7 separate regions of the Homo sapiens genome follow, and regions 1, 2, 3, 4, 6 and 7 are each reported to be linked to region 5. Evidence: microRNA targets listed by miRTarBase, many of them from high-throughput screens and not tested one by one. Region 5 holds a microRNA gene; each other region holds the end of a gene's coding sequence.
What was found. The annotated mature microRNA hsa-miR-124-3p reads UAAGGCACGCGGUGAAUGCCAA and lies in region 5 at 3,006-3,027, opposite strand. An mRNA with a match to its seed (bases 2 to 7 or 8) in the 3' UTR can be bound and repressed. Matches are read on the target gene's strand: a 7mer-m8 pairs with bases 2 to 8, a 7mer-A1 pairs with bases 2 to 7 and ends in A, and an 8mer does both.

Region 1 (4,078 bases), not on the chromosome of region 5:
CCTCTTCCCCGTGAAATGTTCTATAGGAGCAATTACCTTGTCACATAGAACTTTTGTCACAGGGAAAGCTCTCAATTAATTGTAGACTGTTTTCAACCCCAGATTGGGAAGGAAGTCTCATTTGCATTTTGCCCACCTCAACCCAAATATCCCATGATTTCTTGAGACTCTATTGCTTACTGCCCCATCTCTCATCTTACTCTTAGTATGAGGCCTTTTCCTTAAGCACAAAAAGATAATTTAAGGAAATATATTGTGATAGATCTTACAAGGGAAAAATTCAATAACCTGGCCTGATAAAGGGTGGAAACAAATGCAGCTCCAGGAACTCCAAGAGTAGGAGTTTGTATCAATTTATCATTGTGCTCTGCCACTAAAATGACAGCCTTGTATCCTCAGTCCTTGCATTTATTGGGCCACATTCTTAAAAAGAGAGAACATGAATGTTTCTTGACCTGACTGTTTACCCAGACTAACAAATTGAAGCAAGGAAAGCAGGACTATTCAGTGCAAACAGTTGTGAGAACTGTACCCCTTCATATAGGCCCTGGACACACAATATAAAAGGTAAATACTATAGTACAGAATACCTAAGGAATGTTTCAACAGTCACATTTCAGGAATAATAGAATACTATATAGCTGATGCTCAATTCCTGGTACCTATTGTTATTATTTTACGAAGTTAAATCTTTCAAAGAGCTACTCTTTTAGGATTTAGCCACACCTGAACTACGCTCGTACTTTCACATGTGATATGATTTAAGGCACAAAAATTCAGACCTTAGGAAATAAAGCATTTCCCTATTGTGTGATTTGTAGCTTATTCGTTAGGCCAGACCACACATCTCTGTATGGGAATAGGTTTCACCTGAAGATTATGGAAGTTTCCACTGTTAATCAGAGCAGATAAAGCTGGTTAGACTACCTGAATAGTGAGGATCAAGCCAGGAGGTTCTGATGCATCCATCTTCCATATACGAACTCAAATACTACCTCTATCTTACCCCAGAAATACTTTTCCAGGACTGACATATTTTCAGGTTATCCTTAGTAATGGTTCAAAAATTCTTGGGTCTAACCTCACTCAGGGTCATGTTGTTACCACAGCAATTGTATTATTTATTAAATAGCCATAGATTCGATGTCATATGGGTTACAATGATTACAGTAAAACTGAGTAAGAACATTAGGCCCTAGGGTCTTCTATCAATTTTCTCCTAGGAGAAAAAGAAAAAAGGCCATCACCTCCATTATTATCACCAGTGATCTCTTCAGAAAAATCTTCAAGAGAAGCTGTCAAGCTTGAATTTGTGGATACAAGTTTTACAAATTTCTAATTTTGCATAAAAGTTCAAATTTTATTGCTGGTGACAAATCCTGTCAGTTGTTTTTCTTGAAGTCTCACTTCATTCATTTTCAAGAAAATCTCTGCTAAATACCGAAGTCTGAAAAACCATAGTTTGTCTGCCAGTCATTCTTCAAGTAAAACTAATGTTCCATGAAAAAAGCAGCTAATTCAGTGCACAACTAAAATGATTATGCAAATATTTACCTTAGAGACAACCATTGTCCTAAGCTATGTGGCAGAAATGCTTTGTGCGTACTTCCTATTTCATCACACGGAATATTAAAAAGACTTGCACTCAATCATTGAGATTTTATCATATATAATTTTTATAAATAAGGACTATATTAAATACATTTTTAAATAAATTTGGATTTAAAAAAATTAGAGCGTGTGGTTCTAAAGAATGCAATCACTACTAGTATAGTATGGGGACACTGCCTTAATCCATGCTAAGGCACCAGCAGTTTTACCCACCAATGCTTTTGCACCATCAGTGCAAATGTCAACTCGGTGAAAACAGCAAATAACATGTTACTATTGTTTTGAAAATAGTTTTGACCTTACTGTTTCAGGGACCTGCAGTAGTCCATGGACTACACATTGAGAACCATTATCATACAATATGATTCCAATTTTATGAAAAAAATACGCAGGGATGTATATAATAAACATATGAAGGAATTTTCACCCAGTTTTAATTGTGTGGACTTTTTGACTGATGCGACAGGCCCTTACACGTAGTTAATGTCTTTTCATGCCAATATAGAAGTATATCAGTTTTTAAAAAATGTATTTTTAATAGACGAATAAGAATTGTATATATTTAGGGGTAAACATGATATTTTGATATATGTATACATTGTGGAATGGCTAAAACAAGCTAATTAACATATGCATTTGCCCCCATATAGTTATCTTTTGTGGTTAGAACACTTAACATCTACTCTTTCTGAAAATTTTAAGTATACAATATACTGTTGTTAACCATAAAGGGTGTCAGGAAAGCAGGCTGGGTTTGGAAAAATCTCTCGGACCCTCCCACTTTCTAATTGCTTCAGTGGGCCAGGGAGGAAAGCATACCTGTTCATAAGTGAACTTGGGAGTGGGGATGGGGACTCCCATCAAGGCCTCACCACTGCCCCTCTTCTAAAAGATGGCAGACCTAAACCTCTAACCCTAGGAAGCCAACCACTGCTCTGTGCCAAGAGTCATTCTTTCTGCCACACTGCTTTTTTCTCATCCCAAATGGTGACTCACTTTGTCATTGTGCCGTCTCCACAGTTGCCCCCCAAATAGGGCTCTTCCCTGTCAGGACCTGCATGAGGTTATACAATCCTCCAGCTTTGTTGATCCACAGACAAGCGTCAGGCAGCAGATCTTCGTCCTTCTTGTTTTGTTTTGTCTCTTATTATCATCATACACTAACAGTTCCCTTAGTCACCACCCCACTTCACCCCTCATCATCTCTTGCTTGGCTTATTATAACTTTCTAACAAATGTCCAGTCTCCAACATAGCTCCAATCCATCTTTAATATTGCCACCAGATTATTTTTCCTTTAGTCAAAAATGTTCAGCAATTTGCATAATATGACAAGATATTATTTCAATATTTTGGCTTGGGGTTCAGGATCTTCCTCAAACTTTCCTCACTCTGAATTTTCACATTTATCTCTCATCATTCCTCTTCCCATGGCTTCCATTCCAAGCAAATTGGCTACCTTCCTATCACAGGCACAGATTTCTCACTTGCATGCCTTTCTCCAAAGCATTTCCCCCTCCTGGAATGCCCTTCTATGTTGTCCTTCAGGGTTCAGCTTAAATGCGCCCTTCCTCCTTGAAGCTTTCTCAGCAACCTCTGCTTCATTTAAACAGATAGTGTATATTTGACAAAGAGCATATGCCCAGGTACTGTTAGTAATCCTTTTGTATTTATTTATTATTATTATTTTTCATAGATCTTTGTATATATACTTTTGTATTTATGTACCTTATCTCTCCATCTGGGTTTTAAATTCAAGCATTAGAACGACTTTTTGTCAGTTGAAACATACAACTTTATTGATGATACACAAATGAAGTCTTTGGTGGATAAATTCAAGTCAAAACAAATAATAGAACAGTAGGCCATTCATAATGGACAGGTTTACTGTCAATTCAGAAGAACCAGTAAAAATATTTCTATCCAAGCAGCACGATTAAAGTCACAAATATGTTTTCAGTACAAGAGGTCTATTTATTTGGTATTCATAAAATGGTTCAGCTTAAAGCTGGTGACTGTCACAGATAACATCACTCTGGATGATACATTATTCAACACTGGCAGCTGAAAGGATCCCTTTACTATATGAGCAAGTGGAAAAGCAGTAACTTTCAATTTTCAACGCTTCCACACTGCAAAATCATGAAATTTCTTCAAGTCTTTTGACGGTACATAACCAATCAGAATTTGTTCACTAGTTTTATAACTTTCACTTTCACTAAGAGGTCATGGTGATTTGCTAAGGCTCTAATTTTCTTAACACACACTCCAGATGTAGTGCATAAGTAAAAAAGGGAACCTTTATTGAATTCTCTATAGTTAAACACTTCTGCTCTGAGATTGTCATAGATAATCTCAAATAGAGTAAGGGCATTAATAAGGATTTCTGATTCCACGTAAGAATTATAGAGGGAACTAAATGATGCTGGCACTTGGGTACTGAGAAGTTTCTTCAACATATCTGGATT
Region 2 (4,078 bases), not on the chromosome of region 5:
TCATGCCACTGCACTCCAGCCTGGGCAACAAGAGCAAAATTCCGTCTTAAAAAAAAAAAAAAAAAGATTTCAGAGAGGACTGTGCGGCCTCGGCTCGTGGGTCTCTGAGACCTGAAAATTGAGAGCATTTTCGCACCCCAGAGGCTGCTACTGGCAACTCTGCGGCCTTCACCATGCCACAGAACGAATATATTGAATTACACTGTAAACGCTATGGATATCGTTTGGATTACCATGAGAAAAAGAGAAAGAAGGAAAGTCGAGAGGCTACGAACGTTCAAAGAAGGCAAAGAAAATGATGGTCTGAAGGCTAAGCTTTACCATAAACCGTGCCATGCTGAGAAAATACAAATGAAAAAGACTATCAAGATGCATGAAAAGAGAAACACCAAACACAAGAATAATGAAAAGACTCCACGGGGATCAGTACCTGCCTATCTGCTGGACAGAGAGGCACAATCTCGAGCTACAGTACTTTCCAATATGATTAAACAGAAACGAAAAGAGAAGGTGGGAAAATGGGAAGTCCCTCTGCCTGAAGTATGTGCCCAAGGAGAAACAAAAGTATTAAAAGTTATTCGAACAGGAAAGAGAAAGAAGAAGGCATGGAAGAGGATGGTTACTAAAGTCTGCTTTGTTGGAGATGGCTTTATAAGAAAACCACCTAAATATGAAAGACTCATCAGGCCAATGGGCTTGCATTTCAAGAAAGCCCATGTAACACATCCTGAACTGAAAGCCACCTTTTGCTTACCAATACTTGGTGTAAAGAAGAATCCCTCATTCCCACTGTATACAACTTTGGGTGTTATTACCAAAGGTACTGTCATTGAGGTAAATGTGAGCAAACTGGGACTTGTGACGCAAAGAGGCAAAGTTATTTGGGGAAAATATGCCCAGGTTACCAACAATCCTGAAAATGATGGATGCATAAATGCAGTCTTACTGGTTTGACAGCAATTTAATATATAATTATTGAGGACTACAAACCAATTGAAAAAACTGCCATTACTGTGATGTTTCTGAATACCACCAAACAGCCTTATATGTCTGCAATCATCAAGAGATTTATTAAATTGCAAACATTAAAATGGTTAAAAAAAGATTTCAGAAAGTAAGAAGAGAGTAGTCAATTTTAAAAGTGTTTGCAAATGGAAGGGAGCAAGTTCCCTGCCCCACTACCATATTTCACAATTCCATCTTCTCCTGTGTATCTGGAGGATTTTTACAGAACCAAAAGGCCACCATCTGTAGGAAGTTCTAAGGGTTCATTTACATAATGTATCACTAGAGTCTTTTCTCCTTGGGTGAGGGCAGCAGGTTTTTCAGGTCAGAAACTACTCCACACCCCTAAACTCTCTGCATTCCCAGGATGTTAAGTCACTGAGGAAGCTGGGGAGAATATACAGAAGGAAAATTTTGCCTGGTCCAGTACTGAGGCACACTTTTTGCCCTGTGTAGCGTCATTTTATCTCCAATTGACTTCCTTAGATCAGTATGTGTCTATATGTTTCCATAGCACCCACTCCTTAAGTAGCTGATTCACATGGCTTTTATGGACCAAATTATTGTTCCATGCTGCTCTTGATTTTACTTGAGGGTACAGTGACTATTGGGGAGAAATTCTTGCTTGAATTCCAAAGAAGTAATGTGTTCTTCTGGAGGTCTGATAGATTAGTTCTTTCAAGCCTCACCTTGAATAACATAGTTAGAAGACAGCAGGTGAGCTTTATATGACAATAACTAAGTCTCTTCATCATGAAAAATGGAATGGGGGAGTTGGGGTTGAAGAAAGGAGCTCTCCACTGTTCCAAAGCAAGTCCATACAGTCTCTCCCAAATTAAGTTATATAATCCTTTTAGTCCCAAACAGTGGCTGATGAAGGGAAAACCATGCTAGCCATGCCAAGAAATAAGATACTTTGGTTAACAGCCCTGCTACTTAGAAGAGAGAACTCCCTCAACATAATGTCCTGACATTGGATAAGAGGAGAGGAAATGACTAAAGATAAATTCTTAGCATGCTACCAAGAGTAAAATTGGATGAGGACAGGAAGCCCTAGGTCAGATTGTTCACAATTTCTTGAAGTGTTGTGGTGGCCACGACTAGGAGTTCTTTTAATTTTCCTGGTCTGTGAGGGGCAAGCATTAGTTAGGTAAATGCTGGGATATTTGGTCCCAATAGGCAGTGGCCATAGTAACTTCAATCCCTTGGTTACCTCAGAGGTAGCTGGCTGACATTCCTATCAAAATACCCAACTGATATGAGATGTAAACATTGAGATATAGGAGAAAAGGAGACATGCATTCGTCCACTGGGGGTATAGGAACGAACAGAGGGTTGATAAACATATGTTCCTTGTTATAAAGTAAAATCCTGGCCGCGTGAGGTGGCTCATGCCTGTAATCCCAGTGCTTTGGGAGACCGAGGCGGGTGGATCACTTGAGGTCAGGAGTTCGAGACCAGCCTGGCCAACATGGTGAAACCCCATCTCTACTAAAAATACAAAAATTAGCCATGCATGGTGGCGGGCGCCTGTAATCCCAGCTACTCGGGAGGCTGAGGCAGGAGAACTGCTTGAACCCAGGAGGCAGAGGCTGCAGTGAGCCAAGATCACACCACTGCACTTCAGCCTAGAAAACAGAGCGAGACTCCATCTCAAAAAAGAAAAAAAAAAAAAGTAAACTCCTGTAGGCAGAAACCAGTACTGATGATGATTTAATGTGATCTTGTTTCCCTCCTCTGCCTTCACTCTACCTTGGAGTGTTAGTCACCCATCCCAATCGCAAACAACATGAAGGTGATGTCTCAGCCATTATTACTTTCTTCCCTACACACATACACATACACACACACACACACACACACACACACACACACATTAATGAAATACTCAGGACAACAGCAGACACAAAGCAGTCTTCATTTCTTCCACACATCGGAAACATTTTCAATTACAGTTCAGCTTCTCTGAGGTCCACATCAAGTAGTAAAATACCAAGAGCACAGAAAAGCTGGGTTGGAGGAAATCTCTGCTAATGAGGCACTAAGTGAGAGGCTTCACTTAACAATTCCAATAGACAAGCTGGAGGCCCATGCAGGTCCCTGAGAAAAAGAGTCATTTTGGCTTATGCCCTGAAGGAATTCTACTCTGCACTTTCTCCTTAGAGTGTGCCTATGAAGTGCCACTGTAAAGAGAGGTCCTTGCTGAATGGCCACTAGTAAAATCCTAACAGAGAGCTAATCTGCTTGGGGAGCAGCTTTTTTAATAGTGGTGATTTTCTTCTCAGCCAGAGCTTCTCACTGGAATTAAAAAGACCCCAGCCACACTGACAGTTGCAGGTTCCACATTAGTCAGACTGTTTCCTGGGAGGTACTCTTAGCTGGTAAGCTGTCATATCCTCTGATCAGTCAGGATATATTCTAGCGGGATTCTGGGCCTTCAGCTCAGCCCAGGAAAGCTCAGAAATGCATCAAGCAAATGAGCAGAGCTAGAAGGTCACTTTAGAGAGCCTAAAGTGTTTGAAGACAAGTTATTCCAATTGACTTGGGTAAGAAGGGTGTGAATGGTATTTCTGACCCTTTCAACTATATAGTCGATACCCCCTGTTTCCAAACATAGTGGTAACTCTTAAGAAAATAAAACCTATTTGGGAGTTGCTCTTTCTTCTGATAGGCTTAACAGAAAAGTCAAGAAAATGTACTGATGGGTATCTCACCCATGAACCTCATCCTTTCGTTCAATTTCATGGTTACTCTTGGCAACTCCCAACTCTTCCTAAAATACCCAGAAAATAGAATCAGACAACACTTTGCCTTGCTTCAGTCTCAAAGGGTGGCTCTGAGTTCTCAACCCTGGTCCGAGGGTGCTGGTGACAGCAGACACAATGGAGGTAGTCTACTACATTATGGGTGAAGAGTGAGCGCAATGGATGCAAGTACTGGAAGAAAAGGAGCATGAAGCCAATGGAAATCAGATAAGCAATAATGAGCTGCAAGGCAATCAAGGAATGACAGTAATTCAGTAACACTTTCACTCCAAAGAACTTAAAAACCAAGACCATGATCACATTCTCTA
Region 3 (4,000 bases), not on the chromosome of region 5:
AGAGCACCGAGGTGGGCGTGCAGGGGGGCGCTTTTGAGGGCACCCACATGGGCCCGTTTGTGGAGCGGGGACCTGACGAGGCCATGGAGGACGGCGAGGAGGGCTCGGACGACGAGGCCGAGTGGGTGGTGACCAAGGACAAGTCCAAATACGACGAGATCTTCTACAACCTGGCGCCTGCCGACGGCAAGCTGAGCGGCTCCAAGGCCAAGACCTGGATGGTGGGGACCAAGCTCCCCAACTCAGTGCTGGGGCGCATCTGGAAGCTCAGCGATGTGGACCGCGACGGCATGCTGGATGATGAGGAGTTCGCGCTGGCCAGCCACCTCATCGAGGCCAAGCTGGAAGGCCACGGGCTGCCCGCCAACCTGCCCCGTCGCCTGGTGCCACCCTCCAAGCGACGCCACAAGGGCTCCGCCGAGTGAGCCGGCCCCCCTCCCATGGCCCTGCTGTGGCTCCCCAGCTCCAGTCGGCTGCACGCACACCCCTGCTCCGGCTCACACACGCCCTGCCTGCCCTCCCTGCCCAGCTGTAAGGACCGGGGGTCTCCCTCCTCACTACCGCCAGACACCCCGGTGGAAGCATTTAGAGGGGACCACGGGAGGGACAAGGCTTCTCTGTCCGCCCTTCACACCTCCAGCCTCACGTTCACTTAGGCACATCACACACACACTGGCACACGCAGGCATCCATCCATCCGTCATTCATTCAAATATTTATTGAGCACCTACTATGTGCCCAGCCCTGTTCTAGGCACTGGGCATTACCATAGAGAACAAAATAGACAAATACATCTGCCCTCATGGAAGGTGACGTTCCCAGGAGAGGGCACCTACACAGTCACGCAAACACACACTAATTCCTGGCAGGGCCCCCAGCCCCTCCCCTGGCTGAGCAGCCCTGTGGCTGAAATGACTAGCAGATAAACAGACCCCCTTCTGCTCCGCTTCCTCCTGCCCAGCCAGGCAACACCCTCAACCGGCTCCATCACATCCTCAGGTCTCGGGACCATGGGGGGCTCAGAGGGGAGACACACCTACTGCTTCCTCAGATGGGCCCCTCCGCAGCCCCTTCCCTTGCTCGGGGAAAGCCCCCAATTCTGCCCACACCCATTTATTTCCTTCCTTCCTTCCTTCTTTTCTTTCCTTCCTTCCTTCTTTTTTGTTTTTGCCCCCAATTCTGCCCATACCCATTTCTTTCTTTCCTTCCTTCCTTCTTTTTTGTTTTTGCCCCCAGTTCTGTCCACACCCCTTCCCTTTCCTGTCCTGTCCTTTCTTTCTTTTTTGATAGAATCTTGCTCTGTCGCCCAGGCTGGAGTGCAGTGGTGAGATCTCAGCTCACTGCAACCTCCACCTCCTGGGTTGAAGTGATTCTCGTGCCTCAGCCTCCTGAGTAGCTGGGACTGCAGGCACGCGCCACCACGCCCAGCTAATTTTTGTATTTGAGTAGAGACGGGGTTTCACCATGTTGGCCAGGCTGGTCTCGAACTCCGCATCTCAGGTGATCTGCTCGCCTTGGCCTCCCAAAGTGATGGGATTACAGGCATGAGCCACCGTGCCCGGCTTCACACCCATTTCTTTAAAAAGGATCCCGTAGCAGGCAGAAAAGCCCCTTCCATCCTGCTCCTCTGATACTGTGCCCCCTTGGAGATATTTCCGTCCTCCACCCACGTGTCTGTGGCTGGAACTGCCCAGCCTGCTCCTGGCCCCCTGGAAGCCTCCCCACAGCTGGTAATCTGGACTTAAGGATTGCTGGGCCACCGCCTCTCTGCCTACCACCATTCCATATTTAAGTGGAGCCCCTACGTAGAAAGGCCCCGGGGCTTTATTTTAGTCTCCTTTTCAGGGATGTCGTGGGCGGGGGAGGGGGTTCTTGGTGCTACAGCCCTCTCCCCACCCCTAAAGGGACGCCGACGCTGTTTGCTGCCTTCACCACATATTAGTGCTTGACCCTGGCAGGGGACCCCATGGAAAAGATGGGGAAGAGCAAAATACATGGAGACGACGCACCCTCCAGGATGCTCGCTGGGATTCCCACGCCCACCACTGTCCCCCACCCCATGGCTGGGAGGGGCCTCTGAACGGAACAGTGTCCCCACAGAGCGAATAAAGCCAAGGCTTCTTCCCATGTGGCAGTGAGGCTGGCTTGGGACAGGGATCGCCCGCCCTCCCCCAGGGAAAGAGAGACCTGGGCAGGATTTGGGGTGGGGGGAGGCCCCCTTCCGTGCTCTCAGGGGCGGGGTGGAGTCCGTGACTCAATGCAGCGAGGCCTGGTGACTCAGGCCTGGGCTGGGGGCCAGAACGGCATATTTTCCGAGGAAAAGTGACTCTGGGGCCCTCCCCCCGGGACATCCCTTCCTCCCACCTCCCGCGGCGGGGGCCTGGGAACCAAGCCCTGGGGCGCGCGCGGGGTGTGTGTGTGTGTGTGTGTGTGTGTGTGTGTGTGTGTGTATTCGGGCACGAAGTGCTCTCCCAGCTCCCGCCCTGCCCGGCAACGTGCCCTTGCACAACCTGGGTACATAACTCCCGACGCGTAACACCAGGAACACGCTGGTTTCTGGTTGGGGAAGTGGTGACCTTGCCCACACGGGCTGCCAGGAGTGTGCGCGCGCTCACGCACCGGGGACTCTTGGCCAGAGCTGGGCAGCGCACCGTGCGCGCCGAGTCCCGCGCACTCACATCCAGGCCACACCCACGGCGTCCCGGGACACGCTGGCCGCGCACTCATCCCGCCCACGCGGGCCCAGTTTCGCGGCTCGCGGCGCCCCCTGGCGGACGCTCAGAAAACAGATAGGCTGTGGTCGCCAAAATCCCTGCCCAGGTGATTCGGCGCTCAGGTCTCGGGGCTGCGATCCAGGGCCTGTCACCTTTAGGGCCTGTCACCTTTCCAACGCTCTGCGCAAGGATCCAGTTGAATTTCGCTGTGTGACCATGCGTGTGTCGCCTGCCCTCTCTGTGCCTTTTTCCTTTATGAGTCCAGAGTGGCTTTTATGAGGCCTGGATTCCTTTGATTTGATTGTTTTGTTTTTGAGACAGGGTCTTGCTCTGTCACCCAGGCTGGAGTGCAATGGTGCAATCACGGCTCACTGCACCCTCCAACTCCTGGGCTCAAGCGATCCTCCCACCTCAGCCTCCCGAGTACCTGGGACTACAGGCGCACACCATCACGCCTGGCTAATTTTTAAATTTTTGGCAGACACAGGATCTCACTATGTTGCCCAGGCTGGTCTTGAATTCCTGGGCTCAAGCGATCCTCCTGCATCGGCCTCCCAAAGTGCTGGGATTAGAGGCGTGAATCACCACGCCCTGCCATGGATCCCTTTGAATGGCTGCCAGGGCCCAAGAGCCTCTGAGCTTCCTTCCTTATTTGTAAATGACAAAGATGAGTTGATTCTAAGATGAAGCCTCAGAGGGCAAGGCAGTAACAATAGCTAACACTCAGATGCCAGACGCAGCCTTAAGCGCTTTACATATGTTTAATCTTCTGCATGACTTATGACGCAGATGTACTGTTATCATCTTTATTTTACAGATGAGGAAACTGAGGCACAGTGAAGTAGCCCGCTCAAGATGAATGATTCTGAGTCTGCACTTCTAGGGTCCTAAAAGTGTATGTTTCTAACATTCCTCTAATGTTCTGTGCTTCCAACTTTGATATTCCGAAAGTTACTTGATTTCTAAGATCCTAGGATTGGAACATTTGAGAGGACAAAACTTCTGAGATTGGAATGTGTGTTGTGCGGAATCTGCCACTGACGGTTCTGACTTTCTAAGAAAACGAGATTAAAAAATAATCAGGCCGAGCATGGTGGCTCACATCTGTAATCCTAGCATTTTCGGAGGCTGAGGAGGGAGAATCACTTGAGCCCAGGGGTTCAAGACCAGCCTGGACAACATAGTGAGACCTTTGTCTCTTAAAAAAAAACACACACACATCAGTTTGGACCGGGAGTGGTGGTGTGAGCCTGTAATCCCAGCGCTTTGGGAGGCCTAGGAAGGAG
Region 4 (4,078 bases), not on the chromosome of region 5:
CTGTGCTCCTTGAGAGATTGCCCCGATTACCTCCTCTCCACAACCAACCACTGGGTCTTCAGTGTCTATCTATTAAGCATAAGACGCTAGGCCACAGAACACTACTTACAATGCCATCCTGTTTCAGTTTTCAGAAACTTGATATGTAATCATATTAGGTCAATTGAGAGACATCAACATGTTACTAGTTATTATAACTGGGTGGCAAATGTGGAAGTGATTTTTAGTCCTCTTGTTTACACCTGTTCTCTAAATTCTTTACAAAATTTAGACAAGGAAAAAAAGCATTTAAAATGTTAATATCAGCTAGGCACGGTGGCTCACGCCTGTAGTCCCAGCACTTTGGGAGGCCAAGGCAGGCCAATCACCTGAGGTCAAGAGTTCAAGACCAGCCTGGCCAACATGGAGAAACCCCATCTTTACCACAAATACAAAAATTAGCCCAGTATGGTGGCATGCACCTGTAGTCTCAGATACTTAGGAGGCTGATGTAGTAGAATCACTTGAACCTGGGAGGCAGAGGTTGCAGTGAGCCGAAATCGGGCCACTGCACTCCAGCTTGGGTGACAGAGCAAGATTCCCTCTCAAAAAAAAAAAAAAAAATACCCAAAAAAAATCATATTAAATCTCAAACTCTGTGATCCCCAAGTCAACTTAAGCCTAGCCTACTTCCCTGTACCCCAGTGGCCCCTAAACTACAACCTCAGCTCTGTTATTACACCCACAGCTCATCCAGGGCTAACACCAAAGCAGGAATTGAGAAGGAAGAAGCTCTGGAGAAAAGGGGTGGAGGGTTTAAAGAGATTCCCCAAGTCGGCAGTCTCAGCACCACGTCACTTATGGACCCTGAAGGCCTGAGTTTGGAGCCCTCTGTAGGATGGGACCTACAACATCCTCCCCACCCCAAGGTAACACCCTTGGAAAAATCACTATCCTTATCCCTACCCTGGTCTTACCTCCTCTTCCTACTGCCCACTCCTAATTATGGCAGCAGTGCTAAGGGAAGCCCTCTCCCTTGGCACCCCACATTTGTGGATAAGGTTTCAAAGGCTAAGCTTTTCTGGAATTCAGCACATTTTGTCTTTCCCAGCTCAGGGGAAAGAAAACTGTCCAGTCATGGTCACTGCTGTCTCCAGCTTTGGCAATACAACCTACCCAGCATAATGTGAACCTGGAATCAATTCCCTGATGCTTGAAGGTTTCCTTCAGAATGCATCATCGTAAACAGACCCAGGAGGCTCGAGGTAACTCCACAAGGGATTTCAAAGTTACTCCACCTGGAGCCTCAGCCATTCTCTGAATCACAGCCCCATTCTCTGAAAATGCAGAAACTTACCTTGCCAGCACTTTTGTCTACATCCAGGGAGAGAGTCCCAACTGGATTATCCCCAAGCCTTCCTAGACCCTGCAGGGAAGAACCATTAGAGGTGAACAGCCCCCGGCTCTCCCTGACCTCCATGCCTGAGAGAGTGAGCAGCCCACCAGGAGCCAGGCGGCAGCAGTCTCGGGCAGGAACTCCATAAAGGGATGGAGTTTCTTTGCCAGGACTCAGAGAACAAGGCAGACTAATCCTACTCCTGCTTGTCTCATGAGCACCATGGAAAAGCCAATGAGGTGACAAGTCCTGTATTAGCACCATTCGTAGCACTACTCTCCCATTCTGGGACTGGGGGGTGGAGGGTGATCCCCAGAGTGCTTGTAAATCTATTGTCTAAACTGCGACATCTTGGAGAGCTAAAGGGGACACTATTTAGTTAAGCCAGGACAATAGGTATTAAACAGGACTATCCCAGGCAAACCAGGATGTGTGGACACCCTAGAGAACATCTTCTACCCCTGTCGCCAGGTTAGCGGCCTGCGGCTAGAGCAGTTAGTGCCCTGCCCTCCCCCAGATTGTATGCCACTGAAGACAGTCTACTTCTCTAATCAAGCCAGGACCTCACTCAACAAGCTCCCTTGGCATCCCAGGAAAAGAAGAGGAAACTATCACAGGCACCACAAAAATGTGGACAGGGCCCTTATTTGTCTGGTTCAACACAGTATATACCCTGGGCCAAGAATAGTACTTAGCAGGTAGTATATGCTCAATAAATATTTGTTGAATGAGTGAGTGAACGCCCAAAGTTTCTAACATCATCGAGAGAACGCTAGGAAAACAGACTTGGCAATCTAGTAACACATAAAAGGGTTTGAACTCTAACCTTATAAAAATCTAAGGCATTGTGGTGGGGCATGGTGGCTCACGCCTGTAATCCCAGCACTTTGGGAGGCTGAGGTGGGTGGATCATGAGGTCAGGAGATTGAGACCATCCTGGCTAACACAGTGAAACCCTGTCTCTACTAAAAATACAAAAAATTAGCTGGGTATGGTGGTGGGCGCCTGTAGTCCCAGCTACTCGGGAGGCTGAGGCAGGAGAATGGTGTGAACCCGGGAGGCGGAGCTTGCAGTGAGCTGAGATCGCGCCACTGCACTCCAGCCTGGGCGACAGAGCGAGACTCCGTCTAAAAAAAAAAAAAAAATCTAAGGCATTGTATAAACTGCTATGCCTTTCCCTTTGGGGGAGTTTATAAATATGAAATGTTCACAGCTTTAAAATGCCAGATTGAACTGAACCTGTGAACTTCTACAATAAACTAATGGAAAACAAATTATTTTTAAGCCACTGCTGAACTTCAAATAAACTGGAACTATTTCCTGCAATATCTCTAGTACAAACTCATTCAAAACCTTGTTAGCAAAATTGGGACTGAATCTAGCAAATGCTTGGTATACACATCAGGATTCCTCTAACCCCAGTCTCACTGTGTGTAGGTTCCCTGAGAAACAGGTGCCTGGAGAGAACTAGGTTTGCAGGAGATTTAGTGGGGGAAATGGCTAGGAAGCATAAAGGAGACGGAACAGGAGAAGGCAAGGCGGGCCTTCACACCACCGTGAAAGATGGACACGTATGAAAACAGAGGGGGAAGGAAGGAGGACTGGATAGAACCTCAGACGCAGCACAGTTCTAAGGAAGTTTCAGCCAGGTTGATGGGGGGTCCTGGAGCTAAAGTTGTCCAGTAGAGAAGTCCCACATTCCAAGGAATGGGCCAGCACTGGCACCCCACCATGTTCAGTCTCTGGCTGGAAGAAAGTATGGCCTTAGCATAAACAGGGTGGTGGAACAAGAGGGGTGGCAGCTGGGCTCTTACTCCACAGTGCTCCCGCGGCAGGAGTTCTAAGCAGCACATGTTCAGGGCTACTGCCCACTATGTTTGAAACAATATTGTCCCTGGAATGACCCTTTTCAGTGAATCCAAATAGGCTCTGTGAAATTATGCCAGCTGTCAGCTGAATACTCACAGTAGATAACATATAAGCTAGCCCACCACCACCATATTTTTCTCCCAAGTGCTGGAACTTTTCATCCCTATCAGCCAAGATAAAATTTTCTCATAGAACACAATCAGTGACAAACTTTTATTCAGAAAATAAAAGTATTATTTCATTTTATTATTCCCAAAGAATCAAGCCCATCATGAGTAGCCCACATGGTTGCTGTTCAAAGGTACTGAAAAGGGAGGCATTTGGTCACCATTACCCATCAAGGAACTCTTTACAAGGATAGGTTCCAAGTCCTTCGTGCTGCTCTTGGTCATTCAGTGACTGCAGTTTTGGCCCAGAAGCCATCCAAGATGAGCAAGTGCTGAGCCATCCTTAACTCATACCTAGATGAAACAACTTGCGCAGAAACGCTGGTCCTCCCCAGTAACCCCTGTAAGAAATAACACAAAAAAATGTACCTGCAGCAAGAGAGATGGGGCGACTTCAGTCAGGAGGATGCTGAAAGGGAAGCCAGGCTGCTCACAGAGCATGTTCATCAGCACGTAAAGCAAGATTGTCTAGTGAGTTGGAGAGATCCCATGACTAGGAGGGGACAACCTACTTCCATTCCTAAGCTTTGACAAAGACTTGCTGTGTGAGCCTGGATGTGCTAACTCAATTTGGCAAATGTGTCTAAAGCCTCTACTACATGCAAACTGCTACTCTTTCTGCTTTCATTACCTCATAATTAACTGTAGGATTTTGCAATCTTGGCCC
Region 5 (4,078 bases):
AGCATCTTGTTCCCAGGAAGGAAACATACTATTTCCCTGGAGGGTTGTCCTTGAGTATCTCAACGGGTCAAGCTGTTCCTAAATTATTCCGAGAAGCTTTAATTTCAGACCTAGATGAAAGCTGAGATTGTCAAAGGACTCTCACGGCACGCCGCACCGAAGTTCTCCCATTGCGAAGCCCGGGTTGTTTTATTGCAAAACTGCCGCGCATAGAATTTCTTTCATAGCAGGAAAATTTGTAATGGGCATCAAACTGGATGATTATTTTCCAAAGAAATAGGAAGTACATAGTCTTAAAAATCTAGAAACATCACGGATCAATAGCCACTCGATTTCATCTAGGCAACCGAATTACTAAATTGAGTGTTTCCCTTTTTAAGCAGTATTTTAACCTCTCTCATATCACGTATTTCATTTCTATTTAGAAAGCAATTTTAAACTGATCAAGCTTTCTGAAGGACAAGTTTAGATGATCCTAAACAGGTAGGATTAGGCTGAGGGGATTAGGTTTGCTCCTCTGAGGTAGTATGAATTCTAAAGGAATCAGGCAGGACGATTTTGCAGCCCTGGACCATAGCTGCTTTGTGGATTACGCAAGATGTGGATGCAGGAGATCAGCGCAATTGGATGAATACTGGAAGGAAAAAGCAAGGCCGCCATGATAACGTGTAATGCTTTAAATTCATTTCTGCTTCCAACGACTGCTTTTAATTGGCACAAGAGGAATATTCCCAATCCTTAAATTTTGTAATTCGAGCAGCCCCTATTTTCCAGTGTGCTTTACCCACCCACTCCGAAATTGGATAAAATTAAATATAAACCAAAGTAATCGATGAATGTGAAAGACCCGACTTGCAGAGTTCTAAAATTCGAGGACAGATAAAATCCGCCCTGAGGCAGGGGGTGAGAAGGCAGCTCTCTGAGGATATTGCACCTGGCCGCTTTATTTCATGAATTTTATGATACATCTACATCCCGTGTAAAAAAAATAACTTAATGAACACATGTCTTTTAGGTCATTGTCAATGCATGGCCCATTGTTATACCTGGATCAAAATCGGTGTTGCTGTCTCTATTGTCCAACCTGAATTATTTTGTCTGTTACTAATTTTAACACCCTTTATGTTTGTGAATTTATAGACAAACTCAAGCAAATGCATAGAAATTTCTTTTGAGAAATAGCCAGCCAGGGTGGCTACGAATTGGTTGATTTTCCGTCTCTCTCTCTCTCTCTCTCCCTTGCCATTTTGATTCATTACTTAGGGAATTTAAATTTGTATTGTTTACATTTAATACTTTCAACATCTAAGAACGATGAAATATGCTAAGAAATTTAGATTTTTGAATATATCAATACTGACTCATCCAACCTTCGATTTCTAAGGCGAATTTTCACTGCATAAGATTTAGTAAACCGCCCTGCCTCTTTCCGTCGCGTGAGCTATGAGGATGTGGCTGAGGTCGGTTTTTCCGCAGTGCGGGTTTCAGGCCTCCTGGCCCTCCAGTGCCTCCCGCCGGCTGGGATGCGCCGAGCAGGCTCCTGCGCAGCAGAGCGGTCTGCAGAGCTCAGCCCTCTGTACCCGTCTACTAAGGCTGCCGGGCTGCAAGGCCTGGCCGAAGGTGGCAAGCTGCATGGGCTCCTGCCCTGTTTCACCTGGTGGGTCCCCGACCCACCCCTTCCTAGTTAAGCCTCGAGGCCCACACTTGAGTCCATTGCACGTCCCTTTGGTGACCAAGTAAGCACTAAAATCCGCGGCTGAGGACCTTATGTTTCTGTTTTAAGGAAGATGATTTAAGAAAGAAAAGGATAATAATAAAGCCTTCATTCTCCTCAATTTCCTTCTTGCAATCCTGCGATTTAGGTTTCAGCCTAAATAAAGTGGAAATGGTTTCCCCATACACTTACAATGTATGTATGTGTGCATTCCTACGTGAAGACCAAAAAGTGTCAGGCAAGGGTAGCAACCAGCTTGAGGGAACGATTTCAGTAAAATATTGTTTTGCTGTATGTGACCTTTTTCTCTTTTTAAATGTTATTTTTCAAATTACCTAATATCCTACTCTTCTTTTGAGTAGGGACGGGACGGTCCTATTGCTTTTCCAGTTTGATTACGGAGAGAGAAAAGGGCCACGGTCAGCACCGCGGACAGCGCCAGGCAGGGAGGGCGCGGCTACTTTGGTGCATCCTCTTAGCTCCTCTCCTTTGTTCCCAACCCCTGCAGGCCAAGGCAGAACAAAGACATCAAGGCTCGCTTTTTCGGCCTGGGTTTTTCTTTGGCTCCAAAGTCGTGGTGCGGAACTGCTACCTCAACATAGTCCACCTCACTGGCTTCCAAACAAATTAATTTACCGAGTCCTTCTAAAGTTTCTGACCTGGTCCTTTCACCTTATCCCACTCCTTTGACCGATTTGGACATTGCGACAATGCCAAAACAAGAGAGTTATCTTGGCGTCTTAAAGCCAGGCATGAACGCCTCGAGATTGGGAAGAAAAAGGGAGAAGTCAAGGGGAAATGCGGGCGGCAAGTGTTCTTCAGATCTTTCCAAAGTTTGGACGTTTCATTTGCTGTTTCTTGCGCAGTGTGGTCAGGACGCTATTTAATGTTACACCTCTCTCTGCTGTTTTGTTTTCCCAGCTTGGCCCAGGACTGCAGACAATCACACTACCTGTTCTTGAAAGAACTAGTGCTTTCTAAATGATTTAACTCTCTGGAATATTTGCACAGGCGGGAACTACTGCTCTCCAGACAGCTGTCAATGAAGCTTCCCTAAAATTCTCCTCGGAGATTTGCCTGCGGATTTCCGCGGCTGTAATGGAAAAGTAGGAGCCTTTCCCTTTCGAACACTAGGTTGCTTCCAGAATCAGTCCTGGGTGGGGGTGGGGGGCATTTATGCGGCAAGAGATGGGTTCCTTTTACTACCCCCTAAATTCCCTGCAATTGCTTTTTCCCCTTTCTGACCCTGAGATGCTTTGGTGTCCTTCAAGTGCAGCCGTAGGCTCCGCTCTTGGCATTCACCGCGTGCCTTAATTGTATGACATTAAATCAAGGTCCGCTGTGAACACGGAGAGCAGAGCCTCTAATCTTGATCCGGAAAGTATAAGACCCACTGCGATTACCACTCTTCTCTCCCTGCCCATCCCCCTCTCTCCGCTCTGAGTCTCTACCCCTAGAGTCATAACTCATAAGCCCAGCTCCTGTCTCTGCTCATCTCTGACACATCTGCCAGAGCCGCTGTTAATTAGTCTGTTCCGTGGAAGTGTAGACGGTGCGTGTGCCTGCGTATACATATGCATATATCTCCATGCCATTTACAGCACACGCCTAAAAACATACATAAGCCTATAAATCTAGTTTTCAAATGACGGCGTGGATCCAAGTTAATTACCCCTCTGGTACAGATCTAATTTTGTAATCGTGTTATTTTACTGAATGCAATTAACCCAGTTGGTTCGCCCTGAATCCTTTCTAAGGCACTTGTAAGGAATGGCAGGTTTTTAAGGACCACGCTATTGCATGTTCTCCGTCATAACCATTGCCAATCATTTTCTGCTGTCAGGGATGAAATCTAGCATATAAAAGAGAAAACCATGCGTGTGTGCCTGTAAGATAAACACACAGATATGCCTGGGCTCTGTGTCCTTTGATAACGTTACCGCGGGTTTGGTTGGGAGATTTTGGGAAAAGAGAGTCCAAGGGCGGGCTGGGTCATCTTTCTTTGTAATGCGGAAAAATTAACTCATCCGCACCTGCCTAGTCCCGAGAGAGCTGGGCGGCCCATCTGGTCTGGCTACAAGTTTGCTGCGGAGAGAAAAGCCTGCTCACTAAAGCTTCCCCACTGCCCAGGAGCGCGGACCTCGGGTCTGGGCCCGGAAGAGGGATTAGGCTCAGGGCAGCGCAGCCGACTCGCACTCCTCAGCCAGTGGCCACAGTCTGGGGCTGGAAGCGCCTGGGCCGGGCGGAGGGAGGGCAAGCAGGAGAGAGAAAAGGGTGAGGGAAGTTGACCTCTACGGGCGGAGCCCTCTGCGCAGCGGGCAGGAGGCAGCGGGCGCGACGGCTCTTTTCACGGCGTCCCCTACG
Region 6 (4,078 bases), not on the chromosome of region 5:
AGGAGGCAGAGGTTGCAGTAAGCCCAGATTGTGCCACTGCACTCCAGCCTGGGTGACAGTGAGACCCTGTCAAGGTTGGGGGTGGGGAAAGGACAGAAATTCTATTTAAGGATTCGTTGTTCAATTTCTTTGACCCTTCTTCTCTATCTGGTAACTTTTTGAAAAACATAATTTATCCTTCTTCATTTTGCTCATTATCATGTTTAAGACAGATCAATAAGATGGTTAAACCCTGTGTTCACTCTCAAACCACTTTGCAATACTGTCTTTTCCCTGTTGATCACAATTAGGGGTGGGGAAGGGTGACAGATAACAAATTCTGTGTGGAATAGCCAGACAGGGTAATCTTCCTACAGTGGTTTTAGAAATCCATGTGTACTTTTCCTTTTATCAGTGAATGAAGAATGGCTGGAAGGGGAGTGCAAAGGGAAGGTGGGCATTTTCCCCAAAGTTTTTGTTGAAGACTGCGCAACTACAGATTTGGAAAGCACTCGGAGAGAAGTCTAGGATGTTTCACAAACTACAAAGCTGAAGAAAATGAAGCCCTATTACTTGTTTGTAAGATTTAGCACCCTTCTGCTGTATACTGTACTGAGACATTACAGTTTGGAAGTGTTAACTATTTATTCCCTGTTAAAATTTAACCTACTAGACAATGATGTGAGTACCCAGGATGATTTCCTGGGGCACAGTGGGTGAGGAGATGGGGACAGGTGAATGGAGGAGTTAGGGGAGAGGAAAAGTGGATGGAAGTGTCTGGAAAGGGCACGAGAGAGTCTTCCAGGTACTGATCCTGTTTCTTGCTCTGAGTGCTAGCTAGCCAGCTGTGTTCACACTGTAAACATTCATCAAGCTGTACATTTGGTGCACTTTTCTGTGTCATACCACAATAAAAAAAAACCTAGCATCTTACAAAAACAAGACACCCAAGTCCAGGCCCAAGGAGTAAGTACAAATATTCCTGTTTCTGAACCATTACTGTAATTGGCTCTTAAGGCTTGAAGTAACCTTATAGGTTACTCATAAGGCATATACAAATAAACTTGTTTGTTTTCTTTTTTCATTATGTCTTGTTGCTTAAACAGAACCTAGACTGAGTTAGGTTCTCATGGACTACAACACTCAATTCCACAGAGAATTAATAGAATTACATACCTTTGTACATTCTCAGAGAGGAACATGTGTTAAGAACTCAATACTGAATATATATCAATCGCCAACATTTAAGTGATGAAAAGCAGCGGTGTTCATGAAGCTAGTTCGTAAGTAGTATCTTGTTAGCTGACACTTCGTAATACAGTTATGCACTGCTTCACAATGGAGACATGATCTGAGAAACGTGTTGTGCAAACTCATCTAGAGTGCACTTACACAAGACTAGATGGTATAGCCTACTACACAGCTAGGTTACCAGGTATAGCCTACTACTCCTAGGCTACAAACCTGTACAGCATGTTACTATGTTGAATTCTGCAGGCAACTATACCACAATGGTAAGTAAGTATCATCAGTGTAAACAAACATAGAGAAGGTCAGCAAAAATGTATTATAATCTTATGGGAGCATCATTGTATATGCAGTCCATTGTTGACCAAAACATTGTTATATGGTAAATGACTGCATATACTATGCTATACTAATATACATAACAGAATGCTATGGATTTGGCTAACCCAATTGTCCAATTTTTCAGGATTAACTTGGGTGAAGGATTCTGTAACTAACTAAACTATTAGACCTTAAGGCCTGGCCTTAGTTCCTCTCCCTACCCACTTCTTGTTGTAGCGTATGTGGAGCTTTGCTAACAATTTTTCAAGTGTGCAGGCGCCTGTGAAAAGCAGAATAAGGAAGTGAACTGCAGACTGAATCAACATGCAGGTGAAAGGATAGCCGGTCAGGGTGAGCACACAGGCATTAAGGTTAGCTATACCACTGGCTTCCAGCACACAGTTGGAAGACCCAGCAAGCTACCAATCACTGGAAACTTTGGACACAACTCAAAGAAAAGAAACCCCAAAGCTAAGAAGAAGAATTAATTAATGTTGCTGCTAATCAGATTCAGTGAATTTTTACAGGCCAAAAGGATAAACTCTCTGAACTGCCTCAGTAACAGCTACAATAGGAATAAAAATAAAAATGATGGGCTCTTAATTCCTTAACATAAGGCATTCTTTTATTAAATAAAAGAATTTTGATAATCGATTTCTTACTACTCATGCCTTTCCATTACAATTAATTATAATTTCCGTAATTCATTGGTTTGGAATGCTACTAAAAGCAAAATTAACCCTGAAAAATATTCAAGTTCTGACCATTTATGCCTTTCCCTGGATGACCTGTGAGTAGTTGAAATTCTTGCCTTTTAAGTTGGATTTTCTTCAATACTTCTTTTATATCTTTTAGGATAGAAAAGAAAGAATCGATACACAGATCTGGTTGGAGAGAACATGGTTTAATTAAAGGCAAAGCTGATTTTCAGCAGCTGCAGGTCTTGCACAGACAAAAACAAAAAACAAAACCCAGAAAACAAAACAAAAAACCACAAAAGAAAGTTTACTACACAAAACCAGTTTCTGATAAAGATTCTCCTCCCCCTCATTACTCCACAGTGAGGATGATAAGGCGAGGAATCCCGCCCCAAGAGTCAGAAAACATTCCAAACACCAAATTCTCATGCAGAATGGGGCTTTAGATAGGAGCTGGGTATTACTGGGAGTGAGATGGTAAACCTGGTTAGCTTGTCTAGGGCGCAAGAATCAGTGACAGTTCAAACACTGGAATGTTGCAGCTGCCTGAATGCAGAGCTCAAACACACAAACTGGGTAAAGGTAGTAGGAAAAAGGCTTGGGAAGAGGAGAGAAAGGTGGACACAGGGAAGGGGCTGAAGAGAAGCACAAAAGGTTTCATATTGCCATTGGGTAGGGGGCTTCACCTTTTCAGACCTTTCAAAAAAACAAAACCCAAACACCATGTCAAACTAAAAGAGCAATAATGTAAGCATACGGGGCGGGGGGGGCTCCAACCACTCTCTCTGAAGAGCAATGAGCGTTATCTCACCCCTTTTCATTGCTGGGGTTGCCCAGACTGCAGTGACAACTGGGGCTCCTGGATGTGCTTTGCTCTACAGCTGTCTTCCAGCTCTTAAGTTCCACACTAACTCCATACACTCGCACACACAACCCCTCCCCTCTGGGACAGCAGATGGGCACGTGTGTGTACACAAACATACAGACACACAAAGGAGAGACCTCCCAGAAAATAAACCCTACCACTAGCACAGCAATTGAACAATTAGATTGTTTCCATAATTTCCCCTTAAAATATTACTTTTCCAGGAAATGACTAACAGAAATGCTGTCCTTCTGTTTCTACACAAGAACATTTTCAGTCCTCTTTCCTCCTAATAAATATCATACAAAGAGTTTATTTTCCTTTCTTTCGTCTCTTCCAAAATGGACGACGTCGTGTTTTCTTCTGTGCCTGATGGGCACATGTCCGTGCTGCCTTGAATTTCACTCTGAAAGTGGAGGCTGGGAGACTGCAGCTGGGCAGGGGCCTGGGCCCTCTGTGGGCTACGCAGATACTGCTGCTTCCTTCCTCTTCAGACTGTCTTTTGGGCCCCAACTGCTGGACCCCATGCTGTTGCTTCTTGGGGAGATGTGATGTTGCACACATTAGGAATAAAAACAATTACTAGCATACAGCATTGGGTAAAAGAAGGGATGGAGATGGGGCAGGAGGGTGGGAAGTAGAATGGGGGCACAAAAACCAACCAAAGAAAAAATAACCACACTGAAAGCTTCTACCTATTAGAACGTGTCAGGCTGTGAATGGACTAGCCTGCCTTCTGTGAGACTGCTTGCTGTGCGACTGTAAAATGTACAGGAATCAAAAACGTAATTTGAAATCCTACAGCAGTCTACCTGCTAGTCCAGCCCAGCACCACCACCCACACTGTATCCTCGATTGGGGCTCGAGCACCTACAGAGTGAAGGGCATTCCCTGCTGGAGTCTCCTGGCCAGAGGAAGGCCTACCAGAGCCTTCTGACAGGCCTTGAACTCTCCCTTATGGAACATT
Region 7 (4,078 bases), not on the chromosome of region 5:
AAGTTGAATTAGTAAGAAAAATTTTAAAAAAGGGTGAAGTTGAATTAGTATTAATGTACCGTACATCCACACAATACACTGTTATTCAACAATAAACAAAAGGACTGGGCACGGTGGTTCACGCCTGTAATCACAGCACTTTGGGAAGCCAAGGGGAGCGGATCACCTGAGGTCAGGGGTTTGAGACCAGCCTGGCCAACATGGTGAGACCTAGTCTCTACTAAAAATACAAAAACTAGCTAGGTGTGGTAGCACAGGCCTGTAATCCCAGCTACTTGGGAGGCTGAAGCAGAATCGCTTGAACCCAGCAAGCAGAGGTTGCAGTGAGCCAAGATCGTGCCACTGCACTCCAGCCTGGGTGACAGAGCAAGACTCCGTCTCAAAAAAAAAAAAACAATAAACATAGATGAAGATATCCACATGGCTGAACTTGAAAGCATAGGGCCAAGTAGAAGCCAGACCCAGAAGACCACATATATGATTCCATTTATCTTCAATGCCCAGAAGAAGCAAATCTAGAGGCAGGAAGTAGATGGGTGGTTGCCAGGGCTGGGGGGTGAGGAAAGGTGGGGAGTAGTGAGAAGGGGCTACTCATGGGTCAGGTTTCTTTCATGGTAGGAAAAAAAGGTTTTAAAATTAGACTGTGGTGATGGTTGCACAACCCTGTGAATATACAAAAAACCACTGAAGGGTACTGAAGCGTGGTGGCAGGTGCCTGTAGCCCCAGCTACTCGGGAGACTGAGGCAGGACAATCCCTTGAACCCAGGAGGCAGAGGTTGCAGTGAGCTGAGATCGTGCCATTTGCACTCCAGCCCGGCAACAAGAGCGAAACTCCATCTCAAAAAAAAAAAAAAAAAAACTTACTCAAACAAAAAGTTTATATCTATCTATCTATCTATATGTATCTCTTACAAACTGTATACATATAAACTGCATATATACACACACAACTAAAAAAGAAAAGCACACTGGGCACAGTAGCCCACACCTGTAACCCCAGCACTTTGGGAGGCTGATCTGGGAGGATCGGTTGAGTGCAGGAGTTTGAGACTAGCCTGGGCAACATAGCAAGACCCTGCCACTACAAAAAAAAGTTTCTTAATTAGCCAGGTGAAGTGGTGCACTCCTGTAGACCCAGCTACTTAGGAGGCTGAGGTGGGAGGATCACTTGAACCCAGGAGTTCAAGGCTGCATTGAGCTATGATCACACCACTGTACTCCAGTGTAGAGAGATGTTGTCACCCCTACTGGGTGACAGTAACACCCTGTCTCTAAAAACAAAACAAACAAAAAGCCAAGGAGTGCTGTTTCAGATGTGCTATAAAGGCCACCCTAGCAAGAGGCAGCCACATTTATAAGTGCTGACAGGGACCTGAAATAGCAATGTGGTCACAGGAAGGGAGAACTTAGTGAGATCGGGTGGTTCATGAGGTGTCCCCTGGATGCATGAGTAGTTGTTTCCTATTGGGGCTGTTAACAAATTACCACAAACTGAGAGGTTGAAAACCACACCAATTTATTATCTTACAGTTCTAGAGGTCAGGAGTCCAAAATGGTTTTCACCAGGCTGAAGTCTTGTCAGTGCGGCTTTGTTTCTCCACGGAGGCTCTGGGGCAGAATCCAATGCCTTTTCCAGCTCCTCCAGGGGCCACCTCATCGCCTGGCCCCAGGCCTTCTTGCCATCTTCACAGCCAGAAGCTTCCTTGCTTCATGCGCAGACCCTCGTGACTCCCCTTCCCTTATAAGGGCCCCCATGATTACTCAGGGCCCACCTCAACCATCCACGGTCATCTCCCCACCACGAAATCCTGAACTGAAGCACAGGCGCCGGGTCCCTTTTGCCACGCAAGGTAACACTTTCCCACGTCCTGGGGTTCCAAACCTGGACATCTCTGGGGGCTGTTATTCCACCCACCGTCATCAGTGAGGCGCCTTCAGGAGGGGCTGTGAGGTCACGTGAGGTCGGCTTCAGAAGGGCTAGGTTTGAGTGCCTGGAGGACACTGGCAGGAGGCGCCCCTGGGCTCCATCCATTTACCACGCACGCACTCAGCACCCCTGAGACCATCCCTGGGGCCTACAGGAGAACCCTGTACCTCAGCAGCCCTGAAACCTGCTTTCCACTTCCGGACCTTTCTGAAATCAAGACGCATCTTTAGATCAATGGCATCTTACTGTGTCACCGGCAGGCCTCTTCTTTCTTAGTGACGTTTAAAGGAAGGTATCTTACCCCTGATGGCTTCTTGGAGTGAATGAAATTCCGGTGTGAGCAGGCACTAGAAGGGGCCTCACAAGAGTGTCAGGTGACCCCACTCCGCCCTGGCCCCCAAGTCTTTCCTAGTTGCTCATCTGGCCCTTTCTGACCTGGGATCCCAAGTGTCCTGCAGCTCCAGTGCCCAGACCCCCATAACTAACAGACCCCACTAAAGCCACACACATGCTCAGCTCTCCAACCACGGTGGGGTCCAGGAGCCACCCCTCCCGCTAGGTGTGCCTAAACCATGGGGATCTGACTCAGGGGCTCTCTCTCGGCCTGGCTGCAAGCTGAAAACACCTGGGGGCTTCCAAAATGCCCAATGCCTGGGCCACAACCTAGACCAGCTCAATCTGAATCTCCAAAGAGATATTACAGCTCCCCAGGAGACTCCAAGGGGCAGCCAGAGTGCAAAACCGGAAGAAACCATCTAACGTGGGGCAAGGGAGGCGTAAGGCAATGCTGGTGGGGCGTGGAGGTGGAGGGTGCCAGGCCCAGGCTATAGAATTACATCTGTCTATTTCCCATGCCCCTGCCACCAGACTCTGAATTCCTGGAAGGGGACCAACCCAGCTACCTCAGTTTCCTCAAGGCACTAGCCCTGTGCCAGGCACATAGTGGGGTCCAGAGAATGTAGGCCGCAGGGCCTCCAAGGCCAGGCAGCAAAGGCTTTGTGCCAAGAAAGGTCTGGGAAAGGAGCCCACTGGGTCTGGGCCAGCCCTTTGATTCCTGTGATCTCCAGTGAGTCACTGCCCCTCTCTGTGCCAGTACAATGCACACTTGGCCCACACTTGGCCACTGAGTTTGCACTTCACTGAAGGGCTGTGGGAACGACGGCAAGGATAGAGGAAAGCCAGATTAGGGAAGACACTGGCTCTCAGAACCTTAGGGATCTCGGTCTTGGGCCACTCATCCCACTTCTGCCCAGCATCTAAGGAGCTTGAGAGGGTGAAGCGAGAGTAAGAGGGTTCCATGCTCACCCCCAACAGGGTCCCAATGTCTTCTCGATGCCCTGGTCCTTCTGGGCCTAAAACATCCACTTCTGGGGCTCTGTCCTCTGGTGGCTACAAGGATAAAGAATCTGAGGTCCTGAAAGCCAAAGACCTAAGAGGAATCGAACAAGAAACCTGGGAGAGGAGCACAGAGCAGCGCAGTTGGGGGTGTTTACACGGCAAGCAGAGTCCAGGCAGGGAGGCCACAGGATACCTGACAGGCACCTCCAAGAAGGATCTTCATGGGAGTACTCAGGGACCAAGACAAGTCCAAAGGGACTGTGGAGAAGGCCCCTGGCTTCTGGCCATCAGCACAGCCAAGGCCCCAGTACACAACTAAAGGCTTTTATTGGGAAAGGGAAATTGACTGAAAAATGGCCTCCAATTTCCTCGCTGCCTGAGACACTTGGTGCCTCCTCCACAAAGTCCAGGAAAGAAGGGCCCACCAAACTGGGCCCCCAGCAGGCTCAGGTGTAGAGGTCAAAGTCAATGCGTTTGGAGTTGTAGAACTGACCACCAGGGGGGTCCAGCTTCCGGCAATAAACACCGTCCGGGAAGTAGCCTTCACTCACCCAGGTCTGCAAGGAGAGGGCAGAGCTGGGGAACAACTGACAGGAGTGGGGGAAGCAGGGACAAGGCAGGAGGAGGGAGAAAGCAGCTCACCTGCATCTGGGCGCTGGTGAAGGGCCCATACAGCTCGGCATCCCCCGTGTTCTCCCACTTATATTCCCACATCACATCCACCAGACCATCTCCCCGCGACTCTGCTTCTAAAATAACAGGCAAAGCCATTTGGCCTCCAGTGTCTCACTTCCTACCCACTGCCCCCTCCT

Region 1: miRTarBase lists ARMCX2 as a target of hsa-miR-124-3p. The part of its 3' UTR that is shown has no 7-base or 8-base seed match.
Region 2: the mRNA of XKRX is a reported target of hsa-miR-124-3p. The part of its 3' UTR that is shown has no 7-base or 8-base seed match.
Region 3: miRTarBase lists EHD2 as a target of hsa-miR-124-3p. The part of its 3' UTR that is shown has no 7-base or 8-base seed match.
Region 4: miRTarBase lists SQOR as a target of hsa-miR-124-3p. The part of its 3' UTR that is shown has no 7-base or 8-base seed match.
Region 6: miRTarBase lists NCF2 as a target of hsa-miR-124-3p. The part of its 3' UTR that is shown has no 7-base or 8-base seed match.
Region 7: miRTarBase lists CD2BP2 as a target of hsa-miR-124-3p. Seed matches in the 3' UTR shown: 7mer-m8 at 2,843-2,849 and 7mer-A1 at 2,706-2,712.

Annotation. Positions count from the first base shown.
Region 1 is chrX:101,651,900-101,655,977 of GRCh38, forward strand. It overlaps ARMCX2 (armadillo repeat containing X-linked 2), which reads right to left. Exons shown (of 6, transcript NM_177949.4): 6 at 3,382-4,078. The coding sequence ends at 3,791. Among named protein-coding and RNA genes, the nearest start is that of ARMCX2, 5.9 kb to the right of the region's middle.
Region 2 is chrX:100,910,538-100,914,615 of GRCh38, forward strand. It overlaps XKRX (XK related X-linked), which reads right to left. Exons shown (of 3, transcript NM_212559.3): 3 at 2,908-4,078. The coding sequence ends at 3,801. It also overlaps the pseudogene NSA2P3. Among named protein-coding and RNA genes, the nearest start is that of XKRX, 16 kb to the right of the region's middle.
Region 3 is chr19:47,741,008-47,745,007 of GRCh38, forward strand. EHD2 (EH domain containing 2) reads left to right here. Exons shown (of 6, transcript NM_014601.4): 6 at 1-2,127. The coding sequence ends at 425. Among named protein-coding and RNA genes, the nearest start is that of NOP53, 2.5 kb to the right of the region's middle. RefSeq lists a silencer at 2,748-2,857.
Region 4 is chr15:45,690,647-45,694,724 of GRCh38, reverse strand. SQOR (sulfide quinone oxidoreductase) reads right to left here. Exons shown (of 10, transcript NM_021199.4): 10 at 3,444-3,752. The coding sequence ends at 3,695. Among named protein-coding and RNA genes, the nearest start is that of SQOR, 58 kb to the right of the region's middle.
Region 5 is chr8:64,378,159-64,382,236 of GRCh38, reverse strand. MIR124-2 (microRNA 124-2) reads right to left here and starts at 3,088; the gene lies at 2,980-3,088. It overlaps MIR124-2HG (MIR124-2 host gene), which reads right to left. Exons shown (of 3, transcript NR_109792.1): 2 at 3,748-4,078; 3 at 1-634.
Region 6 is chr1:183,552,547-183,556,624 of GRCh38, reverse strand. NCF2 (neutrophil cytosolic factor 2) reads left to right here. Exons shown (of 15, transcript NM_000433.4): 15 at 395-1,063. The coding sequence ends at 507. SMG7 (SMG7 nonsense mediated mRNA decay factor) reads right to left here. Exons shown (of 23, transcript NM_001375584.1): 23 at 2,434-4,078. Among named protein-coding and RNA genes, the nearest start is that of NCF2, 36 kb to the left of the region's middle.
Region 7 is chr16:30,349,273-30,353,350 of GRCh38, forward strand. CD2BP2 (CD2 cytoplasmic tail binding protein 2) reads right to left here. Exons shown (of 7, transcript NM_006110.3): 6 at 3,909-4,015; 7 at 1,501-3,823. The coding sequence ends at 3,713. Among named protein-coding and RNA genes, the nearest start is that of CD2BP2, 4.0 kb to the right of the region's middle.